Regions from separate parts of the Homo sapiens genome. Here all the other regions are linked to region 3. The links come from fine-mapping of genetic effects on gene expression. A gene starts in region 3. Each other region holds a variant in brackets. All regions are shown on one strand. Distances are from middle to middle.

Evidence for each region.
Region 1: its variant is fine-mapped to the expression of ASAP3 in whole blood (INTERVAL, PIP above 0.99).
Region 2: its variant is fine-mapped to the expression of ASAP3 in whole blood (TOPMed, PIP above 0.99).

The regions. Positions count from the first base shown.
Region 1 is chr1:23,531,735-23,539,594 of GRCh38, reverse strand. No RefSeq gene overlaps it. Among named protein-coding and RNA genes, the nearest start is that of E2F2, 4.4 kb to the right of the region's middle. The variant T/C (reference allele first, on the strand shown) is at 3,434.
Region 2 is chr1:23,413,836-23,421,695 of GRCh38, reverse strand. TCEA3 (transcription elongation factor A3) reads left to right here. Exons shown (of 11, transcript NM_003196.3): 2 at 2,557-2,619; 3 at 3,687-3,792; 4 at 4,306-4,447. Among named protein-coding and RNA genes, the nearest start is that of TCEA3, 7.0 kb to the left of the region's middle. RefSeq lists an enhancer at 1,996-2,554. The variant T/C (reference allele first, on the strand shown) is at 4,003.
Region 3 is chr1:23,481,077-23,488,936 of GRCh38, reverse strand. ASAP3 (ArfGAP with SH3 domain, ankyrin repeat and PH domain 3) reads left to right here and starts at 4,758. Exons shown (of 25, transcript NM_017707.4): 1 at 4,758-4,932. The coding sequence starts at 4,804. RefSeq lists an enhancer at 3,894-3,993 and silencers at 4,184-4,233, 4,244-4,353, 4,474-4,923.

The DNA of each region.
Region 1 (7,860 bases), 51 kb before region 3:
CAAGTAGCTGGGATTACAGGCATGCGCTACCATGCCTGGCTAATTATTGTATTTTTAGTAGAGACATGGTTTCACCATGTTGGCCAGGCTGGTCTCGAACTCTTGACCTCAAGTGATCCACCCACCTCAGCCTTCCAAGGTGCTGGGATTACAGGTGCTGGGATTGAGCCACTGTGCCTGGCCTTTTTTTTTTCCGAGGCAAAGTCTCACTCTCGCCCAGGCTGGAGTGCAGTAGCACGATCTTGGCTCACTGCAACCTCCACCTCCCGGTTCAAGCGATTCTCCTGCCTCAGCCTCCCAAAGTGCTGGGATTACAGGTGCCTGCCACCACGCCCAGCTAATTTTTGTATTTTTAGTAGGGACGGAGTTTCACCATGTTGGCCAGGCTAGTCTCAAACTCCTGACCTTAGGTGATCTGCCCACCTCAGCCTCCCAAAGGGCTGGGATTACAGGCGTGAACCACCACGCCCAGCCCCACTAATCTACTTTTTGTTTCTATAGATTTATCTATTCTAGTCTGTAATCCCAGTACTTTGGGAGGCCGAGGTGGGCGGATCACCTGAGGTCAAGAGTTCAAGACCAGCCTGGCCAACAGGGTGAAACCCCATCTCTACTAAAAATACAAAAATTAGCCAGGCGTGGTAGTGCACAACTGTAGTCCCAGCTACTTGGGAGGCTGAGGCAGGAGAATCCCTTGAACCTGGGAGGTGAAGGTTGCAGTGAGCCAAGATCATGCCACTGCACTCCAGCCTGGGTGACAGAGCAAGACTCTGTCTCAAAAAAAAAAAAAAAAAAAAAAAGATTTATCTATTCTAGACATTTCACTAAATGGGATCATACAAACATAGCCTTTTGTGTCTGGTTTCTTTCACTTAGCATAATGTCTTGAAGAGTCTTCCATGTCATAGCATGTATCAGTACCTCATTCCTTTTTATGGGGCCAGGCGTGGTGGCTCATGCCTATAATCCCAACACTTTGGGAGCCGAGGCAGGAGGATTACTTGAGCCCAGGAGTCCAAGACCAGACCACGGGATATAGTGAGACCCCCGTCACTATTAAGAAAAAAAAGGCTGGGCACGGTGGCTCACACCTGTAATCCCAGCACTTTGGGAGGCTGAGGTGGTGGATCACCATCACCTGAGGTCAGGAGTTTGAGGCCAGCCTGGCCAGCACGGTGAAACCCTGTCTCTACTAAAAATACAAAAATTCACCGGGCGTGGTGGCATGCACCTGTAGTCCCAGCTACTCGGGAGGCTGAGGCGGGAGAATGGTGTGAACCCAGGAGGCAGAGCTTGCAGTGAGCCGAGATCGCACCACTGCACTCCAGCCTGGATGACAGAGCGAGACTCCATCTCAAAAAAAAAAAAATTTTTTTTTCCTTTTTTTGGCTGAATAATATTCTATTATATAAATATACCACTTTTTTTTTGAGGCAGGGTCTTGCTCTGTCATCCAGGCTGGGATGCAGTGGCATGACTTCTGCCTCCCAGGTTCAAGCAATTCTCCCACCTCAGCCTCCCAAGTAGCTGGAACTACAGGTGCACGCCACCACACCCAGCTGATTTTTGTATTTTTTTTGTAGAGATGGGGTCTCACTGTGCTACCCAAGCTGGTCTCAAACTTCTGGGCTCAATTGATGCACCCGCCTTGGTCTCCCAAAGTGCTGGGATTACAGGCATGTGCCACTGTGCCTGGACTCCACATTTTGCTTATCCAATCATCAGTTAATGGGCATTTGGGTTGTTTCTACTTTCTGGTTATTATGGATAATGCTGCTATGAACATCTGTGTACACATTTTTGTGTGAACATATGTTTTCAATTCTCTTGGGTATATGGGAGTAGAATTGCTGAGTCATGTGGTTAACTCTGTATAACTTTTTTAAAAACTGCTGAACTATTTTCCAAAGCAGTTATACCCATTTACAATCCCACCAGCAATGAATGAGGGTTCCAATGTATGAGGGTTCTCCACATCCTGGACGACACTAGTTATTGTCTCTCTTTTCTATTATAACCATTCTAGTGGGTTAGTGAAGTGTCATCTCATTGTAGTTTTGATTTGCATTTCCCTAATGACTAATGATGTTGAGCATCTTTTCACGTGCTTATTGGCCTCTGTATATTTCCTGTTTTTTTTGAGACGGACTTTGGCTCTTGTCTCCCAGGCTGGAGTGCAATAGCACAATCTCGGCCCACTGCAACCTTTGCCTCCTGGGTTCAAGCGATTCTCCTGCATCAGCCTCCTGAGTAGCTGGTACTACAGGCGCCCGCCATCACGCCCAGCTAATTTTTGTATTTTTAGTAGAGTCAGGGTTTCACCATGTTAGCCAGGCTGGTCTCGAACGCCTGACCTCAGGTGATCCACCTGCCTCAGGCTCCCAAAGTGCTGGGATTACAAGTGTGTGAGCCACTGCGTCCGGCCTGGCCTCTGTATATTTTCTTTGAAGAGTTGTCCAACCAAATTGTTTGCCTTCTTAATAAATTTTGGTACACACACACACACACACACACACACACAGCACATTCACATCCCATCCCAGATTCACTTCAACGCAATAAACCCGAGACAGCTGTGATTAGCCCTGTTTATCAGATGAAGGAACAGAGGCCCAGAGTAATGCAATGATATGTCCAAGAGCACATAGCTTATGGAGTGCCAAGATTTAGAATTTTATGTTTTTTTCTTTATTTTTCTTTATTTTTATTTTTTTGAGACGGGTTCTCACTCTGTCTCCCAAGCTGGAGTGCAGTGGTGCAATCTTGGCTCACTGCAACCTCCGCTTCCTGGGTTCAAGCGATTCTCCTGCCTTAGCCTTCCGAGTAGCTGGAATTACAGGTGTGCACCACCACACCTAGCTAATTTTTATATTTTCAGTAGAGACAGGGTTTTTCCATGTTGGCCAGGCTGGTGTCGAACTCCTGGCCTCAACTGATCCACCCACCTCGGGCTCCCAAAGTGTTGGGATTACAGGCACGAACCACTGCACCTAGATTTTTTTTTTTTTTTTTTTTTTGAGACAGAGTCACTGTCGCCCAGGCTGGAGTGCAGTGTCGAGATCTCGGCTCACTGCAGGCTCCGCCCCTGGGTTCACGCCATTCTCCTGCCTCAGCCTCCCGAGTAGCTGGGACTACAGGCGCCTGCCATCTCGCCCGGCTAATTTTTTGTATTTTTAGTAGAGACGGGGTTTCACCGTGTTAGCCAGGATGGTCTCAATCTCCTGACCTCATGATCCGCCCGCCTCAGCCTCCCAAAGTGCTGAGATTACAGGCGTGAGCCACCGCGCCCGGCCTGCACCTAGAATTTTATGTATTTAACAAACATTCATATAGTGTTTACTACATGCCAGTCACTGTTAGAAAAGCCCACGAACCCATCTTCCAACAATGTTCCAGTAAAAAGGTTACCACTAGCAGAACTTCCTTAAAGCAA[T/C]ACCTTGTTTCTCTTTTTAAAAAACAACTTTTTTTTCTCCAATCACCAAAGTAATACATGTTTATTGTAGAATAGGAAAAGCACAAAGAAGATGGAGCAGGGATTTTTCTCCCTTGTTTCCCATAGCTCTGATCTGGTTTCTCTGTGATTTGGGATTCGTGTGAACAGGTGATGTGCTGAGGAGCCCGGGACAGGGAATATGTACCTTCAGGAAGTGTCTGTCAAGCAGTTTGTATTCTGATTAACAGGACTTTGAGCACAGGGAATCTGTGGAATTTTTCAGGAGAAGATACACCAGCTGGAATGGAAGTTTGCTTTAGTTTGGGGATTTTTCCAGGACTATCTGGGGTTGCCTGGAACAGGAACTTCCTCACTTACCTGCTCTGTGGCCTCAGGCAAGTCATGGCTTCCTCATCTGGAAAATAGTACTAAGCATCCCCAACTCATCCAGTTGTGGGACACAGTCTTTCCACTTCCAGCAATGTGTGCAGCACTGGAACCCCTGGTTCATTAGCAGAATGTACCCTCCTTCACATGGGGTTTTGGGGCTGAGTTCACTGTTCACAACAGCGCAGTGCCTTGGGAGAGATCTGAGTTCAGATCCTGATTTCATCTTCAAACAGTTGTCAAGTTCCTTTACATATTTCAGCTTCAATTTCTTCATCTGTCCAAAATGTACCTGTGTTACAGGGTAGTTGGGAGGTTTCGACAAAATAATGTATGTAAAATACCTAGCTGGGTGTTTACGCCTAGGAAGTTCTCAGGAAATGTGAACTATTATCATTTATTTCAGGCCTACTTTGTGCCTGGCATCTCAGGGGAGGAAGGCGCAAAAGTGAAAACAAAGCCTGGGTCCTGCCCCCAAGGAGTCTGAAGATTTGTTGATAGGTAGATTAAAGTAAAAGGGTCTTATGCACTGGAGATAGGATCAGAGACGTAAGAAAACTGCCAATTCTTGAGGCTCCTTATAAACCAGGTTCCATGCTGAAAGCTTTATATGCATTATCTATGAGATTTCTTCACAATCCTATGAGGTAAGTGCTATTAGGATTAGAAAATCAAGGATCAAAGATCAGAGAATTTAGGAAATTTTGCCTGGGTCACACAGCTAATAAAGTGTCAGGGCCTGGGTTTGAACCCTGGGATGTCTGACTTCAGATTCTTTGCTCCTTCCACTCCATTTGAGTTGGACCTTGAAGGATGAGTCAGATTTGGGCACATGGGGATGGAGGGGAGGAGGGGCCTGGAGGGGAGGCGGGGCCTGAAGAATAGGAGGATATGGAGCCAGGTAAGCAAAGCCTGGGAGATGGGAAAGTGTAGGGCGTGTACGGCAGAAACTCTGAGGGTTTTGTGTGTGTGTGTGTGTGTGTGTGTGTGTGTGTATGTGTGTGTGTGTGTTTGAGACAGGGTCTCGCTCTGTGACCCAGGCTGGAGTGCAGTGGCACGATCTTGGCTCATTGCAACCTCCACCTCCTGGGTTCAAGCGATTCTCCTGCCTCAGCCTCCCGAGTAGCTGGGATTACAAGCACACACCACCACGCCTGGCTAATTTTTTTTTTTTTTGTATTTTTAGTAGAGACAGGTTTTTGCCATGTTGACCATGCTGATCTCAAGCTCCTGGTCTCAAGTGATCCACCCACCTCGGCCTCCCAAAGTGCTGGGATTACAGGCATGAGCCACCGTGCCCGGCCTGTTTGTTTATTTTGAGACAGTCTTACTGTGTCACCCAGGCTGGAGTGCAGTGACATGATCATGGCTCACTGCAGCCTTGACCTCCCTGGGCTCAGGTGATCCTCCCACCTCAGCCTCCCGAGCAGCTGGGATTACAGGCGTGTGCCACCACGCCCAGCTAATTTTTCTGTATTTTGGAGAGACAGAGTTTTGCCATGTTGCCCAGGCTGGTCTCAAACTCCTGGGCTCAACAGATCTGTCCACCTTGGCCTCCCAAAGTGCTGGGTTCACAGGCATGAACCAATGTGCCCGGCCTGAAACTGCAAGTATTTAGTCTGGTTCCATGTGAGGGCCTCTTCGGGTCCATTTCACATAAACCTTAGCCAAAATATATTAAGTACCTACCATGCACCTGACATTTCTCTAAGGACTTTATAACCAACACCTTACTAAGGCCTCACAGTAAATGGAGAGGTCACTTGTGCCGCCTCCATTTCAAAGATGAGGAAATTGAGACTCAGAATGGTCCAGCAACCTGACCATGATCACAATGCTAGGAATGAATGGGGCAGGAATTCAAGCTCAGGGAGGCAGATTTCAGATCTGTGCCCCACACCTATTGCAAGAATTAGTCAGTTCCCAGGCAGTGAAACTCTAAAGCCAGCCCCAGCTGCCCGAAACTCAACCACAGAGAGCTGGCTCTCAGCCCCTCACTGGCTCCCTTCTTTTCTCCCAGCTCCACCCTGCCACCCCCATTTCCCTCCCTGGCCCTGGGGCCCTGCTGCTTCCCCAAACCTGCTCTGCCACAATTCCTTCCAGGTTCCCTCATCTGTAAAATGGGGATAATAATAGTGTCCGTCTCAGAGCAGTGTTGTGAGGATCAGAGGAGGGGCTCAAGGTGCTTAGAGCCCAGTGTATAGTAGGTTCTCAATAAAAATCAGTGATCATCGCCACCACTGTCATTTAAGTAGTGTCTCTGAAGTAATGTGAAATTGACTGAGTGATAGCATTATCCACATTTGATGGTTGAGGAAATTGTGGTTAAGAGAAGTGAAGCAGCGGCTGTCCAGTGTCACTTAACTAGGAAGTAGAGAGCGGGACTTACTTAATCTGGGCCTCCTGACTTTCTGACTTCAGATCTCATTAACTTCTCCTATTCTTTGCAGCCAGGCAGATGAGTGAATCATAATCAGTATTTATTACCTGCCTTCTGCACTCCAAGCCAGGCCCTAGATGCTAAGGGGCATTCTAGAGAGATCTGACCTAGATTCTTGAAGGAGCATAGAACCTAACTGATAAACAAGGTATGAAAACGAAGCCTTGTTTTGTTGAGGTAGAACACACTAAGGGTCCCAAGAGGGTAAGAGCCATTCTGGCTGAGAGGAAGCAGGCAGGGGAGGCTTCTTGGAGGAGGTGAGATTTAAGCTGGCCCTCAAAGGACCAAAAAGGACCAATGAGATACGTAGACTAGAGTAAAAGGGTCTTATGCACTGGAGATAAGGTCAGAGATGTGACCGGGAGCGGTGACTCACACCTGTAATCCCAGCACTTTGGGAGGCCAAGTAGGGCGGATTGCCTGAGGTCAGGAGTCCGAGACCAGCGTGGCCAACATGGTGAAACCCTGCCTCTACTGAAAATACAAAAATTAGCCAGGCATGGTGGCTGGCGCCTGTAATCCCAGCTACTCGGGAGGCTGAGGCAGGAGACTCACTTGAACCTGAGGCAGGAGAATTGCACCGCTGCACTCCAACCTGGTGACAGAGTGAGACTCTGTCTAAAAAAAAAAAGTCAGAGATATAACAACAGCTGCCAATTCTTGAGGCTCCTTATGATCCAGGTTCTGTGATGAAAGCTTTATATGCATTATCTCATGAGATTTCCTCATGATCATATGAGGTAAGTGCTATTAGGAGGAGAAAATCAAGGATCAAGGATCAGAGAATTTACAAAATTTGCCTTGGTCACACAATGAATAATAAAGTGTCTGGGCCTGGGTTTGAATTCGGGGCTGTTGGCTACAAAGCCTGGGCTCTTAATCATCATGGGTTATTGCCACCTTGGCCTCAACCATCTAATGAGGAATTAAGCTGTGGACTGTCTCTGGAGGGCTTTGAATGCCAAGGCTCAGACTTGCATAAAAATCACACAGCACCAGGCAAGAAATCAGACCTGAAATCTAGCAGCAGCTTCTAGCAACTTTTTACCACTCACTACCCAAGTTTGCTTCTCTGAGCCTCTCTAAACCGGAGTGATGAGGAATGTATTATCAGCAATGAAGGTTTTTGAATGAGGCAGAGAGGCTCTTGTGACAAAAGGATTGTTTAAAAGAAACCTAGAGATGTTCAAACATTTACTGAGTATTGGGTCCTAATAATACAACTGTGAACAAGACAAAGCTCTGCAGTGGGACTCTGACCCTGCTGTGCCCCCAGGCAGCTTGGGAGAGTAGAAGAACCCCTTAACTGGAAAAACAAGGGCTCCAGAGCTGGGACCTGTCCCAGATTCTGTTGCCAGCTCTCAAATCAGGGAATCTCTCTGTATGACCTTGGGCAAGTTACCCAGCCTTTCAGACTGTCAGTCTTTATCATGGGGATCATCATTCCTCTTCCCAGGATTGTTGGAATAAATTAACTAAAACAACGCTTGTAAGGATCTAGCATGGTGCCTGGCATCCTGTAGGCGCTGAATAGATGTTAGTTTTCCCTACAAAGAAGTAGACTAGTTTGCCTCCGTCCCTCACCCCTCTGCCATTAAAG
Region 2 (7,860 bases), 67 kb after region 3:
GTATGGTCAGAGATAATTTACTTCTATTGTTATCTGTACAGTGGAAATATTATATAATGGTATGGTAGTGTACGTCTCCTCCCAAAACTTCCTTCAGTTCAGTGACAGCATGTTGGTAGCTTGAAATTGGCCATGGGATGAGTGTTTACACCACAGAAATTGGCAAACACTACAGGTCAGTTTTTTTTTTTTCCTTGAGAACTGGTTGTTAAACGTTGGCCAGCACACCACTGCACTTACCCATGTTGATATTCCATGATTGTGTATGTCTAGACAGATCTGCGCCCATGCTAACACAATTTGTATAGTGGTTAGAGCCCAAAAGGACTGAGTTTGAATCCCAACTTGGCTCCTTATAAAGCATGTGACCTTGAGAAAATTATTTAACCTCTCTCTTTCTTGGATTGCTCTTTGGTGAACACAGGATAATAATTCTGTAAGAATGGGAATAATACACAGGACCTACCCGATAGGGCCATTGTGAATGTTAAATGAGATAATACAGGTAAAAAACTTAGAAGAGTGCCTAGTACATAGCAAGCCTTTAATTAATGTTACACTTGGAGTTGTGTACCCCCAAGTTCACATACACACACATCTGCAGGTCACGCTTCTGAAAACCTACTGTGAACCCAAGTTCTCAGGGAGGCTAAGGACTGACAGAGGGCAGCTCTTAGGACATGGTCCAGGTCCTGCCAGGGTGGGGATTGGCAGCTGGAACCATGAACTGTGGGCCAAGGATAGGAACATACAGGACACCGTCCCCTGGTGCTCCCCAGGGAACTGATCTCAGGACAGCAGGCAGGTATGGCTTCTAGGAAGGGGCTGGGGGAAAGGAGAAGGCTGAAATGGGTCGGAGGGTGTCCAGGGCCTGGCAGCTCACAGATTTTCAAACCTAAGCCTTTTTCTGCCTCCTGCCTTCTTTCTGCTTTAGTTCTGCACAAGTTCATCCACTCAGGGAGCACTGGACTCTCTGCTGAGCCCTAAGTTCTCAGAGATTAGAACGGTTCTCTTTACCCGAGAGAAGTTAAAGTACCTGTTCACACAAAGACTTGAAATGAATGTACCTAGAAGCTTTATTTCTAGCAGCCCCAAACTGGAACCTATCCATAAGTCCCATCAACCGGTGAATGAATTTAAAACATTGTGGTAGACTGGGTGTGGTGGCTCACGCCTGTAATCCCAGCACTTTGGGAGGCCGAGGCAGGAGGATCACTTGAGGCCAGAAGTTTGAGACCAGCTTGGGCAACATGGCAAAACCCTATCTCTACGAAACAATGCAAAAAATTAGCCAGATGTGGTGGTGCATACCTGTGGTCCCAGCTATTCGGGAGGCTGAGGTGGGAGGATCACCTGAGCCTGGAAAGTCGAAGCTGCAGTGAACTGTGATTGTGCCACTGCGCTCCAGCCTGGGCAACAGAGTGAGATCTTGTCTCAAAAAATGCCAGGCAAACTGTGGTACATACATACAGTGGAAACCACTCAGTAATAAAAAGGAACTACTGATCCACGAGACAACATGGATGAGTCTCCAAAATCATTATGCCGAAATAAGCCAGATAAAAAAGGGTTTTTGCCCTACATACTCTTTACATAAAATCCTTAAAGATACAAGGTCAACTATAGTAACAGAAGGCAGAATTGTGGTTGTTTAGGATTGGGGATGGGGAGGGATGGATTAGAAAGGGGACAGGAAGAAGCTTTTGGGGCTGGTGGCTGTGCTTTTATCTTGATTGTGGTGAGGGTTCCATGGGTGTACACGTATGTTGAAACTTATCAAATTTTACACTGCAAAGTGTGCAGTTATTGTATGTGAATTATACCTCAAAAAAGCTGTTTTTTGTTTGTTTTGTTTTGTTCGAGTTGGAGTCTCGCTCTGTCACCCAGGCTGGAGTGCAGTGGTGTGATCTTGGCTCACTGTAACCTCCATCTCCTGGGCTCAAGCGATTTTCCTGCCTCAGCCTCCTGAGTAACTGGGATTACAGGCATGCGCCACCACGCCTGGCTAATTTTTGTATTTTAATAGAGATGGGGCTTCACCATGTTGGCCAGGCTGGTCTTGAACTCCTGGCCTCAAGTGACCCGCCCACCTCAGCCTCCCAAAGTGCCGGAATTATAGGTGTGAGCCACCATGCTGGCCAAACTGTTCTGTTTTGTTTTTTAAAAGGCTCCCAGTCCTCACCCTGCGAAGTTCACAGTGGGGAGGTAAGGGAAGGACGCTACAGGCACACGAGCAACAATAAGCCAGGAAGGAATTCATTTGGGAGGAAAGATGGGGAAGGGGGAGGGCATTCCTGGGGAGAGGCACAGCAGAACCAAAGGCTGGAGGTCAGGAGCCTGGCTCAGAGGGTTTGAACCCAGCAGGTGGCGGGGGATGAAGTTAGAGCACCACCTAGGACAGATTGTTTCTCGTCTCTCTCCTTCCTTCTGCCCCTTGCCTGTCCTTCGGCCACATGTCTGTCTGTATCCTCCTGCTCTCTGTACCAAGACCACACAATAGTCAGAGAAGCCTGGTCAGGACCCAGGCCCCAGTCCTCACCTTGTGGCCTCCCACAGGAAGGGGCCCTGGACCTTCTGAAGAAGCTGCACAGCTGCCAGATGTCCATCCAGCTACTACAGGTGGGGCGGGGGTGGGAAGCCTTGGGACAGTGCCTGGGGGGAGAGCTGGTGGGGGAGGGAAAGACCCCTGGTGGGGGAAGGTGGAGTCTGGGAGGAATTTCTGAGGGGGGCCTGTGGGGAGGGGATCTTGAGGTGGAGACCTCCCAGGGAGGGACTGAGGGGGACACAGGGGCATCTCGGGGGCGGAGAGGGTATCTTCTAGGTGTAGGGGACCTCTGGGCCTTGGAGCAAGACTGGTTCGCTTTTCTTGAATACCCCAATTCCCAAGGCCCTGGGCCTGTGGGATCCAAGAGGCCAATGATCCAGGGAGAGGGAAAAGCCCCCATTTAAAATCCCTGTGTAGCCCTTAAAGTCCCCAGATTTACCAAAAGCTCCTGGCCCTGAAAAATCAGCACAGACAGATGCAAGGTCTCATAGCCGGAGCTGCTGTCTCAGTTGAAACTGGAGCTCAAAGACACTAGAGTGAGCTGGCCACGGTGGCTCATACCTGTAATCCCATCACTTTGGGAGGCCGAGGCAGGCAGATCACCTGAGGTCAGGAGTTCGAGACCAGCCTGGCCAACATGGTGAAACCCCGTTTCTACTAAAGATACAAAAATTAGCTGGGCACGATGATGCACACCTATAATCCCAGCTACTCAGGAGGCTGAGGCACGAGAATCGCTTGAACCTGGGAGGTGGAGGTTGCAGTGAGCTGAGATTGCACCACTGCACTCCAGCCTGGGCAACATAGCGAGACTCCATCTCAAAAAAATAGACACTAGAGGGTTGGGAATGGGAGGGGTCCTGACAGTCAGCCAAGTGCCACCCCCAACCCTAGGTTCAGGTTTCACCAAAGCTACAGATATCCTCCATGTCAGGCTTAGCCCTGGGCCCTCGGCCTCGTGCAGAGCAGGGCCTTAGTTACAGTAGTGGGGTTCTGACCTCAGCCAGGAGTCAGGGCTAGGACTCTGGGGGTCCAGGTTGGAAGGGGAGGTGGTGGTAGAGCTGGGGCAGGATCTGCCAATGATGGCAGCCATTCCTGTGTATCCATTCCCAGATTATGCCTTAACCCTCTCACTTTGCAGACAACCAGGATTGGAGTTGCTGTTAATGGGGTCCGCAAGCACTGCTCAGACAAGGAGGTGGTGTCCTTGGCCAAAGTCCTTATCAAAAACTGGAAGCGGCTGCTAGGTGAGAGAGGACAAGGTTGTCTTGAGCCCTGTTTTTCTCCTAGCACTTGGGACAGGACTGGGCCTGGCTCATAGCCAGCACTCAGTGTATGTCTGTTGAGTGACTTAATCAGTGACAGATGGCCTCTGGATCCGGGAGGTAGCTAGTGGGGGACTGCCAATGTTTGTGTACACAAGTGCAAGATTTGTAGACTTGTGAGTTTTGTGTACA[T/C]GTGCCACTTACGTGTTTGTGCTCTCATGCATTTGTCTATATAGTACATGTCTACATGCACACATTTGTCTTAATATGTGCAGAGATGTGTTTGCCAATGTATTAATGTCCCCATGTGAGACTGTGTATTTGTACACACGTTCCTGTTGTTTGTGCATTTGTGTGTAAATGTGTTTGTGTGTGTGTTGGGAGTGTGTGTGCAGCTGTCCTCGTCCCTGCCCTTTGCTCTCTCCCCACTAAGTCATGCTGGGTTCTGCTGAGACAGAGCTTAGCTGAGGGACAATGCCACCCTTTTGTTTTCAGACTCCCCTGGACCCCCAAAAGGAGAAAAAGGAGAGGAAAGAGAAAAGGCAAAGAAGAAGGAAAAAGGGCTTGAGTGTTCAGACTGGAAGCCAGAAGCAGGCCTTTCTCCACCAAGGAAAAAACGAGAAGACCCCAAAACCAGGTATTCTTTTTTGGGATGGAGAGAAGGGAGCTGACACTTGTCACGTCCTCTGACAGCAACTCAGTGTATATTATCTCATTTAAACCTTTCATCCTGGGGAGGAAGATATTGGTATTATCTCCTGCAGTGCCCCCTCTGGGGGTCTTCTTTGGCTCAACCAGATGTTAGACTCACAAGACCCAAATAGGACATAAATGGCACTGGCTTTGCCTAGAAGGATGCAGGGACAGGAAAGAGTGCGTCTGCGGGAGGGCCTCCAGCATTTCTCTACAGAGAGTTCCCATAGGAGACCGCACGGCAGTCTAGAGCTCTTCTCTGGCCCACCCAGGCAACAGCCTAGGTGCGGGGAAACAAGACCACAGCGGGTATAAGCCTCACATCCCGAATCTTGTAACAGTCCCAAAGACAAAGATTCCAAGATGCTAGCAAAGGCAATAGCCACTTATAAGATTCATTGCACCTGGCGCAGTGGCTCACACATGTAATCCCAGCACTTTGGGAGGCTGAGGCGGGAGGATCACTTGAGCCCACGAGTTTGAGACAAGCCTGGGCAACATGGCAAAACTCCGCCTCTACAAAAAATACAAAAATTAGCCAGGCATGGTAGCGCACACCTGTAATCCTAACTACTCTGGAGGCTGAGGTGGGAGAATCGCTTGTGCCCGGGAGATGGAGGTTGCAGTGAGCTGAGATTGCGCCACTGCACTCCAGCCTGAGCAACAGAGCAAGAACCTGTCTCAAAAACAAACAAACAAAAACCAAGACATATATTATAAATTAAAAGGATCTCTACTTTCTGTATTATACAATAAAAATTTTAAATCTGAATTGTTGGGTTTTTTCACAATGATCCTGTACTGCTTTTGAAACAAAAAATAATAATAGTGCTTTTAAAAACTAAACAAATAAGAGTGATAAAAATCTGTTGTAGAAAATAATGGAAGGCCGGGTACGGTATCTCACCCCTGTAATCCCAGCACTTTGGGAGGCCGAGGTGGGCGGATCACTTGAGGTTGGGAGTTCGAGACCAGCCTGACCAACATGGAGAAATCCCATCTCTACTAAAAATACAAAATTAGCTGGGTGTGGTGGCACATGCCTGTAATCCCAGCTACTCGGGAGGCTGAGGCAGGAGAATCACTTGAACCTGGAAGTCGGAGGTTGCAGTGAGCCAAGATTGCACCATTGCACTCCAGCCTGGGCAATAAGAGCGAAACTCCGTCTCACAAAAAAAAAAAAAAAAAAAAAGGAAAATGTAGAAAAGTAGAAAAAAAAATCACCCACATTCCCACCACCCAAAGACAATCACTCTTGATGAGTTAGTGTATGGCTTTTCTTTCTGTTCTCTGACTTGTTTTCTATAGTCATCCCCAATTTTAATAGCCTGCTTTTTAAAAGGTAATGCCTGTGAAATGGTTTTGTCACATTTTCTATGTTCTGTTCCTTTCCATTGCTCATTTTGCAAGTGTATCCTACTTGGAAAAACCCTAATTGGCATCTAACTTTTCACACGAGTGTGTTTTCTTTTCCCAAAGGGGTTAGAAGTTTGGCTCGGGGAATCCCTGACCATCTCCACAGTGCCTAGCACGGAGTGAACATTTACTGAATACTGCTAGCCCATTTGTAGCAGCATGGTCCCCTGCCCTGTGGATTACCTCCTGTTCATGCCCTGGCTGGTCTGGCCATGTCTGGAGCACCTGTGTGGTTATGAGAACCTTGGCAAATGAAGGACCAGGAGCAGGAGAGCTCTTATGAGATGAAGTTGAAGGACTAGAGGCTGAACTACTGGGGAGGGACCAAATGGGATTTGGGACTAATCTGTCACATGGGGAGTGTAGGCATCCAGGTAAAAGTGGCAGCCTGAACACATGCAGTTTTTGTTTTTGTTTGCTCCATCCCCAAGCCCCACTGAATGAACAGTAAAGAGGCTGGGCGCAGTGGCCCATGCCTGTAATCCCAGCGCTTTGGGAGGCCGAGGTGGGTGGATCACCTGAGGTCAGGAGTTCGAGACCAGCCTGGCCAAGATGGTGAAACCCCGTCTCTACTAAAAATACAAAAATTAACCAGGGGTAGTGGTGCACGCCTGTAGTCCCAGCCACTCAGGAGGCTGAGGCGGGAGAATCACTTGAACCCGGGAGCAGAGGTTGCAGTGAGCTGAGATCCCGCCACTGCACTCAAGCGTGGACAACAGAGTGAGACTCTGTTTAAAAAAAAAAAAAAAAAAAAAAAAAAAAGAACAGTAAAGGGATTTCTTTTAAAGGCCTGTATGAGAACAACAGGTGTAGGAGAGGTAACAATGAAAAAGCAGAAAGCCAGGTTCTGGGCTGAACTTGTCACTTATGGCCTTCTTCTCTGAGACTCAGTATTATGGCCTGAAACACAGACATCATTTTCTCCGTTCTTTCTTCTTAAAAATAAAATGTTTTATTTGTAATAGTCTTTAATTATATTTTAGTTGTCTTAGTTTAGCGATTTTGTATTTTTTATAATACAGATAATTACTTGCTCATTGTAGAAAGTTTTAAAAATACAAATAAATAAGAAAATAGGCCGGGTGCAGTGTCTCATGCTTGTAATTTCAGCACTTTGGGAGGCTGAGGCAGGTGGATCACAAGGTCAGGAGTTCAAGACAAGCCTGGCCAACCCAGTGAAACCCTGTCTCTACTAAAAATACAAAAATTAGCTGGGCCTGTTGGCGGGTGCCCCGTAATCCCAGCTACTCAGGAGACTGAGGCAGGAAATCACTTGAACCCAGGAGGCAGAAGTGTCAGTGAGCCAAGATCGTGCCACTGCACTCCAGCCTGGGCGACAGAACTAGACTCCGTCTTAAAAACAAAACAAAACAAAACAAAAGATAAGGGCCAGGCACGGTGGCTCATGCCTATAATCCTAGCACTTTGGGAGGCTGAGGCGGGCAGATCATGAGGTCAGGAGTTCGAGACCAGCCTGGCCAACATGGTGAAACCCCATCTCTACCAAATATACAAAAATTAGCTGGGCATGGTGGTACATGCCTGTAATTCCAGCTACTTGGGAGGCTGAGGAGGAGAATTGTTTGAACCGGGACCCAGGAGGCGGAGGTTTCAGTGAGCTGAGAGCGTGCCACTGCACGCCAGCCTGTGCTACAGAATGAGACTCTGTCTCAAAAAATAAAATAAAATAAAGTAAAATAAAATATCATTTATTATCTAGAAACAAGCACTCACATATAATTGTGTGTATATATACATATAAAATTTATATATATATATATATATATATACATCCTGCTAGACTATTCCTATGCATTACTACCTATAAATAGGTATAAAATACCTATTTGTTTTAATAAAATTGAATTACACTCTGTATACTATTTTGTAACCTTTTCATGTACATAAATGTATTCATTTCAGTAGCAAGGTGTGTTTAGT
Region 3 (7,860 bases):
TCTGTGGTCCCAGGTACTTGGGAGGATGAGATGGGAGGATCCCTTGAGCCCAGGAGGTTTAGACTATAGTGAGCCATGATCATGCCACTGCACTCCAGCCCGGGTGACAAAGTGAGACCCTGTCTCAAAATAATAACAATAAAACAAAACAAAGAAGGCTTTAAAGTCTTGCAGACCTGGGTTGGAATCCTGGTTATATTACTTGTTCATTCTGACTTTATACAAATTAATCTCTCTAAGCTTTAATTTCAGTGAGATGGGAAGCATAACGTCACCTACCTCATAGGGTTGCTGTGAGTATTGAGTGGGTATTGAGTGAGCTATTGCTTGTATAGCCCTTGGCCCTGTGACTAGTACGTAGTAAATAAATAAATAAATAAATAGGTGGGCCAGAGCCCCAGACCAGAAAACTGATTATTACAGTCCACAGTGGTAATTGCTGTGGTGGGAGATACTGGATCCCGTAGGAGTCCAGAGTAAGTACATCAAGGAAGGGTTCTTGGAGGAATTGACATCTAAGTTGGCCTGCTGAAAGGACGTGGGAGAGCATTACAGACGGAGGGGAGAACAGTGAAGGGGCTCAATCACAGTGGGGACAGAGAGGCAAGAGATCAGCCTGTGAATGGCAGGAGCAGCAAGACCATGCAGGGCTAGACATCCATGAAAACAAGTTTGGCTTTTATTCAGAGAGCAATGCGGGGGGCACTGAAGAGTTCTAAGTAGAGGAGCAACAGAACAGATATGCAAGATTAGGGGCAGGGAGACCAGCGAGGAAGTGAGAGGTGGCAGTGGTCTGGACTGGGGTTGGCCTGCAGATGGAGAAGGTGGTCTCACTGGTGAGACTAGTGACAAGACTTGTTTGAGGGGAGGTTGGTAGAAGAAGGGAGGAGAGGATGACTCCGAGGGGGTGCATGGTAATGCCTTCCATCAAGACAGGGACAGAAAACAATCTGGTGCAAGGAGTGGGCGTACGAGATGGTGAGTTCAGTTTTGGACCTGTAGAGTTTAAGGTGTCTGTCTGTGAGCCAGTGAAATGAAACTGTCTCATAGGTGGCTGGATACATAGATCTTGAACTAGAGAAGAGTCCAGGCTGGAAATACAGCCTTGGAAGATGTGATTGGCTCAGTAATGGCTCCCAAAGATATCCAGGTCCTAATCCATGGAACCTGTAAATGGCACTTATATAGCAAAAGAGATTTTGCAGGTGTGATTAAATTAAGGATTTTGAGATGGGGAGATTATCCTGGATTATCTGGATAGGCCCTAAATGTAATCACAAATGTCCTTATAAGAGGGAGGCTGAGCACTTTGAGAGGTCCAGGTGGGTGGACCACTTGAGGTCAGGAGTTGGAGACCAGTCTGGCCAACATGATGAAACCCTGTCTGTACTAAAAATACAAAAAATAAAAATATAAGTAAATAAAAAATAAAAATAAAAAATTAGCTGGGTGTGGTGGCATGGGCCTGTAATTCTAGCTACTCAGGAGGCTGAGGCACAAAAATCCCTTGAACCTGTGAAGCAGAGGTTGCAGTGAGCTGAGATCACACCACTGCACTCCAGCCTGGGCGACAGAGAGGCATCACGTCTCAAAAAAAAAAAAAAAAAAAAGAGAGAGGTTGAACTAGCTGGGCGTGGTGTCATGCACCTGCAGTCCCAGCTACTTGGGAGGCTGAGGTGGGAGGATCGCAAAAGCCCAGGAGGTTGAGACTTCAGGGAGCTGTGATCACTCCACTGCTTGGAGTGACAGAATGAGACCCTGCCTCAAAAAAAAAAAAAAAAAAAAAAAAAAAGAGGGGGCCGGGCGCCGTGGCTCATGCCTGTAATCCCAGAACTTTCGGAGGCCGACGCGGGTGGATCTCCTAAGGTCAGGAGTTCGAGGACCAACATTGAGAAACCCCATCTCTACTAAACATACAAAATTAGCCGGGCATAGTGGCGCATGCCTGTAATCCCAGCTACTCTGGAGGCTGAGGCAGGAGAATCGCTGGAACCCGGGAGGCGGAGGTTGTGGTGAGCTGAGATCGCACCATTGCACTTCAGCCTGGGCAACAAGAGTGAAACTCCGTCTCAAAAAAAACAAAAAAAAAACAAAAAGAAGAGGGGTGGGGAGGCTGGGAGAAATTTGATCACAGGGAAGAAGGCAAGTAAGATGCTTGAAGATGCTGCTGCCCTTGAAGGTGGAAGGTGCCATAAGCCAAAGAATGCAAAAACTACAGCTCTCGAAGCTGCAAAAGCAAGAAAACAGATGCTCCCTTATAGCATCCAGAGGAAGTACAGCCCCACTGATACCTTGATTTTAGCCCAGTGAAAGTTATTGCAGACTTGTGACCTCCAGACATGTAAAAGAATAAATGTGGCCAGGCGCAGTGGCTCATGCCTGTAATCCCAGCACTCTGGGAGGCCGAGGTGGGCGGATCACCTGAGGTCAGAAGTTCAAGACCAGCCTGGCCAACACGGCGAAACCCCGTCTCTACTAAAAAATACAAAAATTAGCTGGGTGTGGTGGCACGTGCCTGTAATCCCAGCTACTCGGGAGGCTGAGGGAAGTTATTGGTGATTTGTTATAGTAGCAACAGGAAACTAGTACAGAAGACATCAACATTACCGTTGGGATTGGATGAAGAAATCCAGGAAGGCTGATAGAGTGAGACATGCAGAGGATTTAGCAGAGAGCTCCCAACAACTCCAGCATTTAAGATCCCTGCGGAGGAAGTGCATCTCAGAAAGGGCTCTTGGAACAGCCAGAGGGAGAGGGCCACCAAAGAAAATAGTTCTCCTAGGATTCAGGGGCAAGGGTGTTTCAAGGAGAAGGGAGTGGTTAACATTGTCAGATGCTCCTAAAAGTCAAGCAAGAAAAGTGCCTAAGCTCAGGAGTTTGAGGCTGCCTTGAGCTATGATCATTGCACTGCACTTCAGCCTGGGCGACAGAGTGAGACCTTGTCTCTAAAAATAAATAACAAGAAAAGTGCCTATTTGGTTTCAACAGGAGAAGTTGACCTTGAAAGAACTCTTGGAATAGTTGTCGTCTCTATCAGATGGTACACATTTTTTTCAACTTTTAATTCTTTTTTCTTTCTTTTCTTTTTCTTTTTCTTTTTTTTTTTTTTTGAGACAGGGTCTCACTTTGTCACCCAGGCTGGAGTGCAATGGCAGGATCTCAGCTCACTGCAAACTTGACCTCCCAGGTTTAAGCCATTTTCCTGCCTCAGCCCACCAAGTAGCTGGGACTACAGGCAAGAGCCACCACGCCGGGCTAATTTTTGTATATTTTGTAGAGACAAGGTTTCGCCATGTTGCTCAGGTTGGCCTTGAACTCCTGAACAATCCGCTCACCTCGGCTTCCCAAAGTGCTAAGATTACAGGCATGAGCCATCGCTCCCGTCAACTTTTAATTCTATTACACAGTAGTATATGGTCATTGTATAAAAGTTAGGATATACAGATTCACCAAAAGAAAAGAAAGTTACTCATAATGTCTTCAGCTAGTGCATATCTGTCTTCAGCTAGTGCATAAAATGTTGCTGGTGCAACATTTTAGTGCATATCTTTCCGGATTTTTTCTTTTCTTTTCTTTTCTGTGCGAGAAAAGAAAAGATTCTCTCAATCGCCGCCCTGTGGGGTAAAATACCATGAGGCCATTTTAAGAGGGGGAAATGCAGGCTTAGAGAAGCAAGCAATTTATCCAAAGTAACCAAGATTGGAATCTAGGTTCCTCTGACTCCAAAACCAATGTTCCTTGCTGCGGTGCTTTCCTAGCTTTTTACTTGGAGAACTTTTCCCCAGAGGACCTCAGGCTTCAGAACTAAACCTAAGTGGATTTCTATCCTGAACCCCATCCCTCATCCGCCCCAAAGGATGGTGAGCCAGATTAAGGGGTGAAAGGCAGGAGCAGGAAGAGTAAAGGCGTGGGTGCGATCTATGGTCGGGTAAGAGGGAACTAGTACACGCACGTGTTCGGTTCTTCGCAACATCACAATCAAGCGGGCATCAGGCTTCCCATTGTACAGATAAGGAAACTGAGGTTCCAGAAGAGAAGTAATTTTCCCCAAGTCACACAGCTAGCCAGGGGCCCCGATCCACACATCCCCGGGGCGGCGGGGGTTATCAGGAGGGAGTCTCCGGATGCCTGCAAAGCTGAGGCTGAGAGCTGGGCGTACGCAGCAAAGGAGGGGTGGGGCGATTCGGGGCGGAGCGAGGCAAGGAGATTGGGCGGGACTGGGGAGAGAGGAGGGAAGGGTGGCGGGGGGGTGGTAGGGCAGAAGGGGCGAGGTCATGGGGAACTCGGAACGAATCAGCAGAGGAGGGAGGAAGAGGGAGGGGGCTCTAAGACTCGACGCGGAGATGGAACAGCCTGGGCCGTGCAAGGGAGGAGGATTTGGAAGACCCAGAGCGGGATGAAACGGGACAGAGCCCTGAAGGGGCAGGGATGGGGGAAGGCGGAGGAGTTTCTACTGAGGCCAGGGGTGGGGCATCGCGCCAGGGGGCGGGGTCTGAGGCGGTGAGGGGCTGGGGGCGTGGCCTAGGGGGCCGGCGAGGGGCCGGGGAAGCGGCCTGACGCGGTGCGGGGCCGGGACCGGGGCCGGAGCCTGGACCTTGGCGGTGGAGGAAGGCGAGGAGCCGGGGGCGGGGCCGTCCCAGCTGAGGAGCGGAGAGCGGCTGGAGGGTCGGGGGCGGGGCGTGCGGAGGGGCGGGGCGTGTGGAGGCCGGGACGGCGCCCCCGGCCGGCGGTGAGGCCGGCTCAGCGCGGAGCAGCTCAGTGCCCCCCGCGCCCCGCTCCGGCAGCTCCACGCTCGCGCCCGCCATGCCGGAGCAGTTCAGCGTCGCCGAGTTCCTGGCCGTCACCGCGGAGGACCTCAGCTCCCCGGCTGGGGCCGCCGCCTTCGCCGCCAAGATGCCCCGGTACCGAGGGGCGGCGCTGGCGCGGGAGGAGGTGAGGGGGCCGAGGCGGGAGGGGTCGGGGGTCGGCGCCGGGCCTGGCCTTGACCTCCACAGGCGTGTCGCACCCGAGCTGCGATGGCCCTTCACCGCGCCCCGAAACCTGCCCCCTCCCTAGGTCTGGGAGGACCGAGCGCATCTCCAACAGCTGCGTCCTCACCGTCGAGGCGGGGGAAGGCCCGAGGGACCGTTTTGGGGGGCCTCGAGGTCTCTTCGATGACAAACTCCACAGGTCGGGGGACGTACCCCAAGTGCCCCGCGTGACCGCCTCATCACATATGTGTTTGCCTAGCGCCTTCCAGCCTCAGTTTGCGTTTTCATCTTCGGAGCCCCACAAGTGTGCCCCCCGAGTCACTCCCCTTCTGAGAGGCAGGCTTCCCGCCTCAGTCCTGAACTTTCTTCCCCCCGGCTGCAGAGAGGCCCCCTCCCGCTTGCGGCTGGTTCGGAGATTTGGCCCGCGTTTGTGGAATGAATGCGGATGGGAAGGCGCCAGGAGCCGGGGTTCACCTTGGCCGGGCTGTTGGCAAGTTTATCGTCTCCTCTCCCCTCCCCTCTCCTCTTTGTCTTTCCCAGCAAAGCGTCCCAGGCCTTTTCTTTCGGTCTTGCAGGCTGCCCCACCCCATTCCCATGCTCTTCGGAGTTCCTTCCATTCCTCTTCTCTGAACCTGCTGCAGCTTTCCGCAGCTCCTCTGCAAAGAATATTCTAGGACAGACACCCCGTGGCCTTGGTCCAACGGAGAATAATGTGTTTTTGCAGCTCCCCATCCAAAGGATGCCCTCAATTTGGGTGGCATTTTGGACCTCAGCAACGGCTCTAGCCTTCCACCCTTCACCTTAAGTGTACTAGGCACCCACTGCGTGGCAGATACAAAGCTCAGTAGTTCATAACACCCTGCGCCAGTGTCAGGAAATCTGTCCTCTTCTCTCTTGTCAGGGTGACCCTCCATCTCGGAGTCTGTTTGTATCACTTTGTAAGGGTGATAGAGGATTGTGGAAGGAGCATCGACTTTGGGGAAGGCAGACCTTTTTTCTTTCCTTTTTTTTTTTTGAGACGGAGTCTCGCTGTGTCGCCCAGGCTGGAGTGCAGTGACGCGATCTTGGCTCAATGCAAACTCCGCCTCCCAGGTTCACACCATTCTCCTGCCTCAGCCTCCCGAGTAGCTGGGACTACAGGCTCCCGCCACTACGCCTGGCTAATTTTTTTTTTGTATTTTTAGTAGAGACGGGGTTTCACCGTGTTAGCCAGGATGGTCTCGATCTCCTGACCTCATGATCCGCCCGTCTCGGCCTCCCAAAGTGCTGGGATTACAGGCGTGAGCCACCGCGCCGGCCAAGGCAGACCTTTTTTCAAACGCTGGCTCTGCAGTTTGCCATTTGGGTGAACGTGGGCATGTGACCTGTCCTGTCATCTGTGGAATGGGGGTAATAATGTGTACCTCACATGAGACAATGCATATAAAGCATGCATCTTTTTTTTGGAGACAGAGTCTTGCTCTGTCTCCCAGGCTGGAGTACAGTGGTGCGATCTCAGCTGACTGCAATCTCTGCCTCCCGGGTTCAAGCAATTCTCATTCCTCAGCCTCCCAAGCAGCTGGAATTACAGGCATGCTCCACCACACCCGGCTAATATTTGTATTTTTAGTAGAGACAGGGTTTCACCATGTTGGTCAGGCTGTTCTTGAACTCCTGAGCTCAGGCAGTCTATCCGCCTTGGCCTCTCAAAGTACTAGGATTATAGGTGTGAGCCGCTGCACTGGCCCATGCCTCTTGATAAATGGAATGATTATCGTCAGATTAATCGGCAGATCTCTTTAGACAGTGATTGGGTCTCTTTTGTCTTCATTTGTCTCACAGAGCCTCACCTTGTCTCATTTGTCTCACGGAGCCTAGCCTACTACTTTGCACATAGTAGGGGTACATGTTTTATTAAAATAAGAAGCAGCCGGTCAGATTTGGCTTCCTTCCTTGGGCAGAGTCCACTGCCTGTGGATGTGGGTTATATTTTACTGTGGGGCTCACAGGGAAACACTGCTGTCCAGCCCATCCTTTGGAGAGCTTCCTGAGATTTGTCTTCATAGCCTCACATTTCATGACCCAGAATAGCTCAGTGCCATCCACATTCTTAGGGATTTCATGGTTCATCCTCCTCCCCAGGTTGTTCATTAGAATCTTAGAGCAGGAGAAGGGGCTCCAATATGAACCTTATCCATGGACAGAAATGCCCATTTATGCCCATACATCTGGCCTTGCCTGGCTGTGTAAGTGTAAGCACTGTGTGTTGGGGGAGGGACCCTTAGAATGGGTCTGGAGGCCACAGCAGGCTCTGTTCAGGGCTCAGCTTTGCCCCAGTTCAGGCAAGACAAAACCCATCCTCCTTTGCCTTCAGATTTTTGGTTTGGTGCACGTAGAGGTTCATTGTTACAACAGAAAGGCTTGCGGCACCCAAACACAGCTTTTCTCTTCAGCATCTCAGGGCCCAAAAAGTTAGAGTCTGAACTTTGGATTAGACTTCCCTGAGGTTTCCTGTTTGGTTTTGCATTTGCATTTATATTTTGCGATTATATTGTGTTTACATATAGTTTGATGCTGCAATTTTTTCCCCCAGTTCTGGGCTTGACTAACCCACCCCCAGGCTTGTAGCTCTATTTGACTGAATCAAAATGCAACTGATTCTTAAGTCAAGTCTTCCAGTTCTGACTGGTTTCCTGGGAGTAACTAGGGACCCTGTCCTGGGACTCGCAGCCCTTTTGTACAGTCCTGCTGGGAAGGACCCTGGGCAGATCACAGGAAACTAGAATGTCAGGGCTGAGGGACCCTTTTAAGATAGAGACCAGCTAGAAACTCTCTCAGATAAGATGGAGTAACTGATGTCCAGAGAGGCCAAGAGACTTGGCCAAGCTCCTGCGGCTGGATAGTGGGAAAG